4 linked regions of the Homo sapiens genome follow. The protein of the gene in region 3 binds, or shares a complex with, the protein of the main gene of each other region. Each region holds a gene or a part of one and is shown on either strand. Other genes may lie near its edges.

Region 1 (3,500 bases), on a different chromosome or scaffold from region 3:
TACTTCTCATATATCCTGTTTTCAGCTTTCTGCCTGCCTCTGGGGTAGTATAGAGAAAGGAAGGTCATTTAGGAGAGGAGAAACTCCAAAAAGTGGGGAGACATACTTTTTTTTTTTTTTTGAGATGGAGTCTCACTCTGTTGCCTAGGCTGGAGTGCAGTGGTGTGATCTCAGCTCACTGCAACCTCCACCTCCCGGGTTCAAGCGATTCTTCTGCCTCAGCCTCCCGAGTAGCTGGGACTACAGGTACATGCCACCATGCCCAGCTAATGTTTGTATTTTTAGTAGAGATGCGGTTTCACCCTGTTGGCCAGGCTGGTCTCGATCTCCTGGCCTCAAGTGATCTGCCTGCCTCAGCCTCTCAAAGTGTTGGGATTACAGGCATGAGCCACCGTGCCTGGTTAGTTTTCTTTCTTTACATATATATATATATATTTTTTTTTTCTTTTTTTTTCTTTTTCCTTTTTAGTAGAGATGGGGTTTCACCATGTTGTCAAGGCTGGTCTCGAACTCCTGTGCTGAAATGATCCCCCTGCCTCGGCCTCCTACAGTGATAGGATTATAGGTGTGAGCCACCAGGCCCGGCCTTTTTTTTTTTTTTTTTTTTTAAATCAGCCTTAGCCAAACTGCACATCCTAAGCCTCATACATAATTTCTCGGACCAGGAGTCTTGTGAACTTAAGTGTGAGGCAAAATTATATTTTAAAAAATCGAAATGAAAAACTCATGCCCCTGCTCTAATACTACTGAACTTCAGCACTAATTTGAGAATTTTCTTTTCTTTCTCTAGGAATATAAGACTTACAAGGAGAACTTTCTGAAGCGCTTCCAGCTTACCAAGTTGCCTCCATATCTAATCTTTTGTATCAAGAGATTCACTAAGAACAACTTCTTTGTTGAGAAGAATCCAACTATTGTCAATTTCCCTATTACGTAAGTAACATCCTGCCTCACTTCTCTCACGGGGAGTGAACCTGGATTTCTTCTCTTGTATTTTTACCAGTATTAATTTTGGACTGTCTTAGTTGGGGATTACAAGGAACAGAGCCTACCTACAGTAGATAAGAGTTTTTATTGGAAGGATACACTTATTTCAGGGACCACAAAAGATTGATGTTTATTGGGATGCAATCCCTATTTTATCTTCTCTCCTGTTGCTAGCTGGAAATTATAGTCTTCCTGCGTAGAGAAGAAGAAATGATGCAAGTAGGATAAGACAGGTAGGATTCTGCCTGGTTTGGAAGATGTCCTGAGTAGTGAGGGTCTGCCCATCTATTTGCTGGCCATCACACCTTTTTGCACACTAGAGTTGTACTAGATGCTTTTAGTTTGCTTCCTTCCAACTCAGAAAACTTCTGCAAGATCCTTTTTGGGGGTAGACTGTTGGTTTTCAGTTCTCAAGAGACAAGGTTTTTCATACTTAAGAAGATGTTTGGCTGGGCGTGGTGGCTCACGCCTGTAATCCCAGCACTTTGGGAGGCCAAGGCAGCTGGATCGCTTGAGCTCAGGAGTTCAAGACCAGCCTAGGCAACATGGCAAAACCCCATCTCTACAAAAAAATACAAAAAATTAGCCAGATGTGGTGGTGCACACCTGCAGTCCTAGGTACTTGAGGGGCTGAGGCAGGAGGATGGCTAGAACCTTGGAGATTGAGGCTGCAGTGAGCTGAGATGGTGTCACTGCCCTCCAGCCTGGGTCTGGGTGACAGAGTGTGACTGTGCTAAAAAAAAAAAAAAAAAAAAAAGAAAGAAAGAAAGAAAATAGTGTCAGTTTTAAATTCCATGTAGTGTTTAAGAAAGTAGTATCTAAAATTAAGAGGCCTGAGTTTTAGGCTGTCTTAGTGGTGGGACCTCAGACCCATAGTTTGCGTGTTTTCTGGATATGTTCTCTCATAGATAAAATGAGAGGCTTGGAGTAGATGGGCCTGAGCCCTAGGGGTTTGTCCAGGTGTAACATCTTATTATAGTATTGCCAGGACTCTTAGAATCATGGAGGGTGAGGAGAGAGAACATTTGCAGTTGAGAATTACAGGGGAATTTCTTTTTCTCTTTTTCTACACTTTTCTCCACTAGCATCTTGTTTGTGACTAGAATTAAATGGGGGGACATGGAGGTTTGTTCTCTGCCTCCTTGAGTAGGATGACAGAGGTGCTTTCTTCGAAAGTCTGTGTGTCAAAGTTTTATTTCAGCACTAGCCTCTTGTGAATTGCCAGTCACCTGTCTGTTCCTGGTAGGTAGGGGCAGTCTGGATTCCAAGGGCAACTCCAGAGGGAGGAAGATTGTGTATCAATGGTACTTCCTGCTCAGTTGCCACAGAAATTTCCTTGCCCCATTGGTTTCTTTTATGGGCCTAGAGTAGGCCCAATATAAAAGTTTGTCCTTCAGAAAGCTTACTTCGGAGAAGTTGAGAAAAAGATTGTTTCTTAACTACGCAGTCTTTTAGAGAACATCAAATTGTGACTAATTCTGGAAACTTGCACTTTAATTATTTTATGTGCTGTAATTACTTCGAGTAATACAATTCTGGATCATTTCATTGTCCATACTTCTTGAAAAGGATCTTTTTCATACCTGTCTTCTCCTATGTTTTATTCATAACACATCCTGTTTTTGTCGGAGAGTTATCAGACTTATGGTGATTAGGCACCCTCTGCTTATTTGGAGATAGAGATTTTTGAGGGCAGGTTTAAAGTTTCACTTTCAGGTAATTAGCCATTCTCTTAACTGGTCTGTTGCTGTGGTTGGGAGATGAGTATAGTTTGCTCTTTTAGGCTGGGCGCAGTGGCTCACATCTGTAATGTCATCACTTTGGGAGGCCGAGGTGGGAGAATTGCTTGAGCTCAGGAGTTTGAGACCTGCCTGGACAACATAGCAAGACCTTGTCTCTACTAAAAAAAAAAAAAAAATGAATAGTTTGCTCCTTTTCCTATTTACTAACACAAAATGATTAAACGTAGTATTTCTCTTTTGCCGCATGGACAGTTTTGGTTCAGTCATGAAATCTTGAGTATAAAGACTTCTCCAAACCAGGCACGGTGGCTCACACCTGTAATCCCAGCCCTTTGGGAGGCCAAGGCGGGCGGATCACGAGGTCAGGAGATCGAGACCATCCTGGCTAACACGGTGAAACCCCGTCTCTACTAAAAATTCAAAAAATTAGCCAGGCATGGTGGTGGGCGCCTGTAGTCCCAGCTACTCGGGAGGCTGAGACAGGAGAATGGCGTGAACCCAGGAAGCAGAGCTTGCAGTGAATTGAGATAGCTAGCGCCATTGCACTCCAGTCTGGGCGACAGAGCGAGACTCTGTCTCAAAAAAAAAAAAGACTTCTTCACTGATACTCATTCAGACAAGTCTAGTCAGCTTTTGTTCAGGCTGAAGAGAAAATAAAATGAGAAGTCAGCCTTTAGTAGCAGGAAGGCAGGTTGGCTGACTAGAGCTCACATGGACTCAGGACTCATATCTCCTTTTTTTTTTTTTTTTGGAGATGGAGTCTCGCTCTGT
Region 2 (3,372 bases), on a different chromosome or scaffold from region 3:
AGATGTTTCATTAACTGTTAGCAGTTATTTCGAGTTATTTATATATCACAGAATTTTGAACTAAAGATCATCTAGCTGAATTTCCTTTATATTAAAGAAGAGGAGAAAATCTTAATACTAAGTATGTGTGAGCCTGGAGCTGCCATGGAGCATGTAGAGAGAGTCTCCTAGTTGATACCAACTCAGGAAAGCAGAATCAAGCAATAAAGAGACATTTTGGGCCTGATGACATCATTTCAGCACCTGGATCCAGCGATGCCTAAAGATGTGACTCCTAGACTTTTCACTTACATGAGCCAAAACGGTTCCTTTGCATCAATAAATCGCTCTGTGATGCATTTTATAATGTACAACCAAGAATCTCAATATTTATTATTTTGCATTAAATATCAGTAAGTTTGATATAAAAAGCTCAGTAAAATTCATTAATTTGAGAATGTGTCTATATCATAGTAAAGTTTTAAACCTACATAATTTTCAATATTTATACCTTTTACTGCAAAAATAAAAATGAGTTTATCCTTGCCCTAAAGCTGTAAAATTAAACTCTGTACAATTCTAGTTATTTGAAATATAAAATAAAATTATTGGTCATTTCATGTATACATTTGTGGTAACACTTTAACTTTTTCCCTGTAAGGCCATCTTTTGTATGTTTCTGTTTCCATCAAGCAGGCTTTTAATGCAACTTTATCTTCTGGGTTTCCCTAGTCATAATTAAGGGTTTGGCCCTAGTTCACAAGTAATCTTCCAGCACAAATTTTATAAACAAATGCCCTGTGAATCTGCATGGCATAAATCAAGTCTCTAGATCCTGATCACTTCTATGTGAATTTGTAATATTCTGCTTTTGGACTTGTAAGACCAAGAGCAGACTCCCTAAACACAGAGGAGGCAGTAATTTAGGACAGCTTAAACATTCTGGCTGACTGCCTCATCAATGCTATTTAATAACAGAATTCTGGGGATGTCTTGAAATAGATACATTGGCAGTTTTTTTGTTTTTGTTTTTGCTTGTGTCACACATAATGCTGATGAAGAAACCATGAAGTGTCATATGAAAGGAAGTTACGATTATTATTGGTGAGTACATCAGTTAGAATGGTATTTGGCTATAAGCACTGGAAACTCTGACTGCCAGTGGCTTTAACAGGCAGGAGGAGTTCATTTATCTCGAGAGAAAAGAACAGAAAAGTGAAAAGCAAGGCAGTTCAGACTGGGGCACCTACTCAAAGAAGTGACCCAGTACCCAGGCCACTATTTTCTCTTTGCCATCCTTTTGTTCTAATAATTTGCCTGTCATCTCGTGACTCATATTTTCCATCTAATTAGAATAAAGAAAGATGAAATAGGAAAGTGAGATTATCATATGGGAAAAATAAATGCTTTCCCAACTATAACCAGCAGACTATACTGGCAAAATATACTGCTTGAATGCCATTGGCCAGATCTTTGTCATATGGTTACCCTAACTACAAGGGAGGCTAGGAAGGTGAGGGATTTTTTTCCTTTTATAGTGACATTTTGCCACTCCAAATAAAAAAAGGGTTGCTGTTAGGAAAAAGAGAAGAATGGGGATGGGGTGAACAACCAACAATGCTGCCATTGTGCTAGTATAGAAGCAAGTATCTCAGAGGCAGGTGAAAACAACTTCTATGCCCAAACAGAATTCTTTTTTATCTCTGATATAAAATGCAGAATATGAATTTTAATAAATTCCCCAGGTGAGTCATATGCACATTAAAGTTTGAGAAGCACTGATCTATACTGTCTTTCTACACACTTTTTTACCTTACTTTATCCTTCAGGATTCTGGCGTCAAGTCCCTCCCTATCAGTCTTTAAAAACTGTAGCCTTAAATCAGTAGGGATATAGAAGACATGAACAATACTTTCATCCATCTTGACCTAACTGCCATTTATAGAACGTTCTATCCCAAGACATCAGAATATATATTCTTTTTAAACATTTAATGAAAGGATTTAACTCCCAAACTCCAAAGCAAGATGTTCTAAGAAGACTCATTTAAAAAATTAATCTCAAAAAACAGATTTTAAATTGTACAGGAGAAATGCTTATATGAGAACAGAATTATGGGGCACTCTGAATACTAATTTAAGAAAGAAATATAAACCCCTTTTAAAACTCACATAATTTTCCCATTTCCCTTGAAGAAGATACTAATATTTCTGATATCATATAGGAGTAAAAATTGCGGGGAGGTCCTAATATCCAATATTAATAGAGCTGTGATTATTCAAGCTGTAGACTTAAATTTTTTAAATAGAGTAATGGTTGTTTAGTAGAGATTAATATCTAAATAAGGAAAATGAAGAAAGGGACTAAAAATCAAGTAAATAGGATAATTGAGTTTCAATGGGCAAGAATTTTTATATCATGATTTTACCACTCTGAATATCAAAGTCAGTGATGTCTCCAAAAGGCAAAGGGAAGTGTACCAATTTTTGGAGCACTATAAAAAGTGAAAAGTCATCTGCCAGATCTAACATGGTATACTCTAATGGAAAAATCATCAAGATTCTCTTCCTTTTTATGATTCTATAGTAACAGTTTAGTTGAGAAAATAAATCATAATTTGTGATTTCAAACATTTAATATGTGCACATGTATATTATAATATACTCATCCTTTATATTTATCATGCTTTTTTGAATAAATTTGCCACCTTATTGCATATGAAGAATATCTCCATATTCTTACAGCTGTTTTTCTTGGTTGCTTTCTAATTCCTTTCCTCCCTTATTGGTTACCTATGAATTGCTCAGTTCTAACAATGATTTGTAAATTTTAATACTATAGATATATTGCTGTTAATTATTACACCTAAAAATAAATTATTTTACAGAGGCTACTAAGAATGTCCATGTTTTTTTCTGAGATTCTTGCCATATTTTAAGGGTGATATGTAATTATGGGGATAACGGATGGTATGTAAAAATAGCAAGGACACACTTTTTTAAAAAAGAAAAGTTTACATTTGAAGGAAGCCCTGGACTTTGATGATTTAAGAAGAATTTTAATTATTGTCCTCAAGCAAGATTCAATTTTCTGGTTTGATGGGGCTATATTTTTCATTTACTACAGTAAAAAATAAAGCATATGAAACTATAAACAAGACACCTGCATGTGTATGCTTATCATTGCACGATTCACAGTAGCAAAGTCATAGAACCAACCTAAGTGTCCATGAGTGGTTGATTTGATAAAGGAAATATTTCATATATACATATACATATACACACACATACACACATATGTAACATTTTTGTATATATACACAATAACATTTACTGTTTACACATTGTATATAGTGTATATATAGAGTGTATATATAATGTGTGTGTATATATA
Region 3 (3,500 bases):
AATGCTTAGCTCTCACTGTGGTAATTTCGTGAATGTGGAGGAAACTACTAAAACTTTGATATACTAAATAGACAGCTCTGTCCCACATTTATGTTTATTAAAAACTGACATAAACAAACACAACCTGTACAAAAAATATCCCAAATCTCATATGACTTTGAAATCTTGAGAGACATTATCGCCTAGGACCCCCTCTTCCTCTGCCACGGCCACGTCCTCTTCCTCTTCCTCTTCCTCTGCCTCTTCCTGCAACTGAAGGAAAAGAAAAACAAACCAAGTTCAATTCTCTCCTGCACCAATGTTACCTAGACACCACAAACAACATTTACACACACACCTTTCCCTGTTTATAGCTCTTTATTAGTAGCTACAGTAAATAAAGTTTAACTAGCTTCTGTTAAATGTGTTAGACTTCAGATTCCCTCCACCCCCCAACACATTATCATGCAGAACCAATAACTAAAGGCCTAGGGAGATTATTATTTGTTTCATTTCAATTTATTTACTAAGAAATGTGTCAAATTTAAAAATACTTTTTCTTTATATCATGTCTCAAATTCACCATAAAATGATTTGAACCTCACAAAAAAAGGGAAGATATATATCACAGAATAAAACATGATCACCTTGATGCCAGAGTTTTGGTAACTGAATAAAATCCAAGCAAGTTAATTCAAAACCAGGAAAGTTTAAATGTATTACATCAAATCACAATCTTATTAACTCTTCAGAAAATTAAAACTCATTTGACCTACACATAATCTAGTGCTTTAATCCAAATAGTAATATCCCTACTGGGTCATCCTAACTCTAGTTGAGTATCATGGTGATAGGGAATTCATGACCCAAATAAACTTATTTCATCTTCAGACAGCTAAGAATATTAGAAAATCTTGACATAGAAGTCAGTCACATTCTAAATGTTTTTGTTTTTGTTTTTTAAATACAGGGTCTCACTCTGTAGTCCCATCTGGAGTGTAATTACACCTCACTGCAGCCTTGAACTCCTGGGCTCAAGTGATCCTCCCATCTAAGCCTCCTGAGTAGCTGGGACTACAGGTACAAACCATCATGTCTGGCTAATTTTTAAAATTTTTGTAGAGATGAGGTCTCCCTTTGTTGCCCAAGCTGCTCTCAAACTCTTGGGCCAAAGCAATCCTCCAGCCTCAGCCTCCCAAAGTGGTGGGATTACAGGTGTGAGCCACCGCACCTGGCCACATTAGAAATTTGTACACACTGATTCTAGTCTTACCATTCTAAGCAATAAATAGTAAGTTTAAGATGCTAATTAAGGGACATTTCACAAAATAACTGGCCCGTACTCTTACAAAGTATCAAGGTCACAAAAGGAAAACTGAGGAGAACCAGCTGATACGCATTAAAGGAAACTAAGGAAACGTACAAGTAAATGCAACCTGTTGTACTGGATTGGATCTTGGACCAGGAAAAGGACATTAAAGGGACAATCAGAGAAATGTGAGAAAGGTCTCTAGATAATACAGTAGTGACACATCAATGTAAAATTTCTAATTTTTTGTAGTTATATGACATTTTAACATTTAGACAATCTTGGTGAAAAGTGTATGGGAATTCCTTGTACTATTTTTGCAACTTTTTGTGTCTAAAATTATTTCAAAATGAAGTGTTTAAAAAAATAAAGAAAATGGGAAAAACAGAGTTGGAGGGGTGTTGTAAAACAACAACAACAACAACAACAAAAGGGCTGGGCACCTGTAATCCCAGCTACTTGGGAGGTTGAGGCAGGAGAACTGCTTGAACCTGGGAGGCAGAGGTTGTAATGAGTGGAGATCGCGCCATGGCACTCCAGCCTGGGCAACAGAGCATGACTCTGTCTCAAAAAAAAAAAAAAAAAAAAAAACCCAAGAAAAGAAAATGGACCAGGTATGATGGTGGCTCACACCTATAATCCCAGCACTTTGGGAGGCCACAGCAGGAGGATTGTTTGAGACCAAGAGTTCAAGACTATCCTGGACAACATAGGGAGACCCTGTCTTTACAAAAAAATAAAAAATAAAAAATTAGCCAGGTTTGGTGGTGCATATCTGTAAAAAAGAAAGATAAATTAAGAAAACAACTGCTCACTGCAATCTCCGCCTCTCGGGTTCAAGCGATTCTCCTGCCTCAGCCTCCCGAGTAGCTGGGACTGCAGGCGCCCACCACCACGCCCAGCTACTTTTTTGTATTTTTAGTAGAGATGGGGTTTTACTCTGTTGGCCAGGCTGGTGATCCACCTGCCTCGGCCTTCCAAAGTGCTGGGGTTACAGGCGTGAGCCACCGCGCCCAGCTGCTGCTTCTTTTTTTTTTTTTTAAAGAAAGAAAATAAATGTTTATTCAAAAAAAAAAAAAATCCAAACATTTGGGAGGCCAACGCAGAAGACAGCCTGAAGCCAGGGGTTTGAGGCTGCAGTGAGCTATGATCATGCCACTTCACTGCAGCCTGAGCAACACAGTGAGATCTTGTCTCTTACCAAACAAACAACAAACAAAACAATTTTTTTTTTTTTTTTGAGACCAAGTCTCTCTCTGTTGTCCAGGCTGGAGTGCAGTAGTGCGATCTCGGGTCACTACAACCTCTGCCTCCCAGGTTCGAGCAATTCCCTGCCTTAGCCTCCCGAGTAGCTGGGATTATAGGTGACCGCCACCACACCTGGCTAATTTTTGTATTTTCAGTAGAAATGGGGTTTCACCATTGGCCAGGCTGGTGTTGAACTCCTGACCTTGTGATCCAGCTGCCTCAGCCTCTGAAAGTGCTGGGATTACAGGCGTGAGCCACCACACCTGGCCCAAACCAATAATTTTTAAATAACTCCCTAACACTAGACTATGACAAACTTGAAACGAAGACTCATTTTCATTATTTAATTTGTTGTAGTTTCCTTTTTTTTTTTTTTTTTTTTTGGCGACAGGGTTTTACTCTGTCACCCAGGCTGGAGTGCAGTGGCGTAATCTCGGCTCACCGGAGCCTCCATTTTCTGGGTTCAAGAAATTCTCCTGCCTCAGCCACCCGAGTAGCTGGGATTACAGGCATCTGCCACCATGCCTGGTTAATTTTTGTATTTTTAGTAGAGACAAAGTTCATGCCATGTTGCCCGGGCTGGTCTCGAACTTCCGAGTTCAGGCGATCTGCCCGCCTCTGCCTCCCAAAGTACTGGGATTACAGGCATGAGCCACCGCACCTGGCCAATTTCAGTTATTTTAAACCGTACTATTTTAAATGTGTACACACAAAAACTGTAAGTCTAGAACACGTTAAAATGGGCCAAATTGACCACACTTACCTTCAATTTCTTCTGAAATAGTATTTATGATAGAAAAGGAACAAAAATGATAACTACCCAGAGGAACAAAGAAAAGCAGAGAAAACACAGTAGATAAAAGATTTTGGGCCAGGCACCGTGGCTCACGCCTGTAATCCCAGCACTTAGGGAGGCCCAGGCAGGCGGATCATGAGGTCAGGAGATCGAGACCGCTTGGCTAAC
Region 4 (3,500 bases), on a different chromosome or scaffold from region 3:
GTTAAAAGCACAGGTTTCGGGCAAGATGAATTAAGATCTAAACCCCAGCTCGGCCACTTAGCATTTGTGTAACCTTTGGTAAATTATTCTAAGCCTCAATTTCCTCATTTGTAAAAGTGGGATTCAAAGGATTGCTATAAGGATTGAATGAGATAATTCACGTAAGCTTAGCCATGCTTGGTACATGATAAATGCCCAATAAATGACACCTATTAATTATTCCTGTGCTGCCACTGCTATCGTAATCATCATAATCGTTTTACCATTATTACTGGTGGTGGTGGTGATCTTGCAGTTACAAAAATGAATTCAGTAATCAAGATCTGTTTTAACCAATGCAGAGAGCAGTGGCACTAAAGCCTCCTTTGTTTAGGTTTTTGGGCCATCATAAAAGCAAGACAATATTATAAAAGAAAATGGCCAGGTGCGGTGGCTCATTCCTGTAATCCTAGCACTTTGGGAGGCTGAGGCGGGTGGATTGCTTGAGCCCAGGAGTTCATGACCAGCCTAGGCAACACGGTGAAACCCCGTCTCTACCAAAAACACAAAAATTAGCTGGGCATGGTGGCAGGCGCCTGTAATCCCAGCTATTTGGGAGGCTGAGGCAGGAGGTTCACTTGAACCTGGGAGGCAGAGGCTGCAGTGAGCCAAGATTGAGCCACTGCACTCCAGCGTTGGTGACAGTGTGAGAATATGTCTCAAAAAAAAAAAATAATAAAAACAATTATGAACTAAGTGAAAAGGCAAATGATAAAATACACCCACAACATAAGCCTAATGAACATATAAAAAATGATTCATTTCACTAGTGTTCAAAGAAACTGGGCCAGGCACGGTGGCTCACGTCTGTAATCCCAGCACTTTGGGAGGCCGAGGCAGGCAGATCATGAAGTTAGGAGATCAAGATCATCCTGGCTAACACAGTGAAACTTCATCTCTACTAAAAATACAAAAAATTAGCCAGGCATGGTGGCAGGTGCCTGTAGTCCCAGCTACTCGGGAGGCTGAGGCAGGAGAATGGCGTGAACCCGGGAGGCGGAGCTTGCAGTGATCCGAGATCACGCCACTGCACTCCAGCCTGGGCAACAGAGTGAGACTCCACCAAAAAAAAAAAAAAAAAAAAAAGAAACTGGATACCATTACTCACTTGCTAAATCAGCATAGGTTTGCTATTGGTTTTGTTTTGTTAATAATCCTTCAATATTGGTGGGGCATGTGGCTAACACCTGTAATCCCAACACTTTAGGAGGCCTAGGCAGGAGGATCACTTGAGCCCAGGAGGTCAAGACCAGACTGGGCAACACAGAGACCTCATCTCTACAAAAAATACCCAAAATTAGCCAGGCATGGAGGTGCGCACCTGTGGTACCAGCTACGTGCAGGACTAAGGTAGGAGGATTGCTTGCACCTGGAAGGTAGAGGCTACAATGGGGCATGATCACACCACTGTATTTCAGCCTGGGCAACAGAGCAAGACCCTGTCTCAAAAATAATAATAATAATAATAATAATAATAATAATAATAATAATAGTGCTCTAATATTGACGACGTAGGCAAACTGGCATTCTCATCACCTCTAGTGGGAGTGTAAATTGGTAGCACCTTTTGGAAAGCAACATGGGAATATAACTAAAGCGAACCATACCCTTTGATCCACTCATTTCATTTTATGGGAATAAAGAAATAAACTGATTTCTACAAATGATTTATGTACAACGATGTATGATATTTTATAAGTGGAAACAATCCATGTATCCAGTAACAGAACAGATAAAATATATATATTGAACTACTACATAACCGTTAAAAATCATACACTCAAAGAATATTTTAAGGTCTTACCAGAGTATCCACAACATATTATTTAGCAGAGGAGTAGACTCCAAAACCCTATGTACAATATGATCCCAATTATGTTCAAAAAAATAAAATACAAGCGTGTATAATCTCTAAAGAGAAAAACCTGAAGAGATATGCATCCAAGTATTAGCAGTTATCTTTGGATGGTAACATGCAAGTGTTTATTCTTTTAAAAACTTTAAACTTTTTTTAATTCCCAAATATTCTGTAATAAATATGCATTGCTTTTATAAAATTAAAAAAAAACAACAAACATTGTTAATATTTACTTCTTCTGACCAAAACTAAATTGGCTCCCTAAGATCACTATTTCCCTTCTAATTACTAGCAAGCCCTCTTTTAAATAATCTATTTTAGAATTTTGCTGGGAATTGGCCAGGTGCAGTGGCTCACACATGTAATCCCAGCCCTTCAGGAGGCCGAGGTGGGCGGATCACGAGGTCAGGAGATCAAGACCAACCTGGCTAACATGATGAAACCCTGTCTCTACTAAAAATACAAAAAAAAACACAAAAAATTAGCCGGGCGTGTTGGTGGGCCCCTGTAGTCCCAGCTACTCAGGAGGCTGAGGCAGGAGAATGGTGTGAACCCAGGAGGCAGAGCTTGCAGTGAGCCGAGATCATACCACTACACTCAAGCCTGGGCAACACGGTGAGACTCCGTCTCAAAAAAAAAAAAAAAAAAAGAATTTTGCTGGGAATTAATATTAAATACTCACTGGAATCCATCTTTACCAACTTTAGTGGAATTCAGCCTATCTACAGCTCTCCTTTCCACTTTGTTTCTCAGAAATTCTCAGCAATGGTTTCATGAACCACTGGGAGGTCATTTGCCTATGATTTTGTCCACCTGGCTCTTACTTACCCTTCAAAACTCAGTATTTACATCTTTCAGGATATCTCCCAACAGAATACAAAGTATGCTACCTCCCCGGGCTCTAATGGTACTTGGTACGTATGTGAAACATCCCCAACATTTACCATACTGTTGAAATTTATCTGAAATTCAGTTTTTCATTCTAGGGTATAATCTCTAAAATACAGCTATGTTCTATTAATCTACATATCTCCAGTACTTAGGCAAGAATATACAATTTGAAAGCTTAGTTAAAGCACTGAAAAAAGGAGCAAATAAAAAGTTCCCTATAACTGAACCTCAGCATTGTTTTTAAGAAAGATTCCAACAAAATGAACCACAGCTAAGTCTCATCATTACTCTAACACTGATGTCGAGAAGTCCTCTCTCTGTGATCCATCTCATTTCTAGGCTGATGGACCCTCCATAAAGAGACAAGTTGGTGTATAGGCATCAGCAAAGAAAACTATTTTAAACAGCTCTTTGGAAACTGTCACCTCTTTTCTGTTCTCAACTAACCCCCCTACAAATCTACCCTAAGCTGGAAAAATAAATTTGAGAAGCTTGGCCTGGCACAATGGCTCACGCCTGTAATCCCAGCACTTTGGGAGGCCAAGGTGGGTGGATCACCTGAGGTCATGAGTTCAAGACCAGCCTGGCCAACATGGTGAAACCCCATTTCTACAAAAATTAAAAAAAAAAAATTAGCCAGGCATGATGGCGGGTGCCTGTAATCCCAGCTACTCAGGAGGCTGAGGCAGGAGAATCATCTGAACCCGGGAGG

What was found.
Region 1: SNRPD1 (region 3) and USP39 share a complex: the UniProt entries of both Homo sapiens proteins name them as parts of the U4/U6-U5 tri-snRNP complex.
Region 2: SNRPD1 (region 3) and LSM8 share a complex: the UniProt entries of both Homo sapiens proteins name them as parts of the U4/U6-U5 tri-snRNP complex.
Region 4: SNRPD1 (region 3) and BUD13 share a complex: the UniProt entries of both Homo sapiens proteins name them as parts of the minor spliceosome.

Annotation. Positions count from the first base shown.
Region 1 is NC_000002.12:85,640,186-85,643,685, forward strand, and holds part of USP39 (ubiquitin carboxyl-terminal hydrolase 39), read left to right. Parts: intron 1-790; coding exon 791-933; intron 934-3,500.
Region 2 is NC_000007.14:118,201,164-118,204,535, forward strand, and holds the end of LSM8 (LSM8 homolog, U6 small nuclear RNA associated), read left to right. Parts: 3' UTR 1-2,872; downstream 2,873-3,372. UniProt on the Homo sapiens protein: Plays a role in pre-mRNA splicing as component of the U4/U6-U5 tri-snRNP complex that is involved in spliceosome assembly, and as component of the precatalytic spliceosome (spliceosome B complex).
Region 3 is NC_000018.10:21,625,814-21,629,313, reverse strand, and holds part of SNRPD1 (small nuclear ribonucleoprotein Sm D1), read right to left. Parts: intron 253-3,500; coding exon 176-252; 3' UTR 1-175. UniProt on the Homo sapiens protein: Plays a role in pre-mRNA splicing as a core component of the spliceosomal U1, U2, U4 and U5 small nuclear ribonucleoproteins (snRNPs), the building blocks of the spliceosome.
Region 4 is NC_000011.10:116,766,488-116,769,987, forward strand, and holds part of BUD13 (BUD13 homolog), read right to left. Parts: intron 1-3,500. UniProt on the Homo sapiens protein: Involved in pre-mRNA splicing as component of the activated spliceosome. As a component of the minor spliceosome, involved in the splicing of U12-type introns in pre-mRNAs.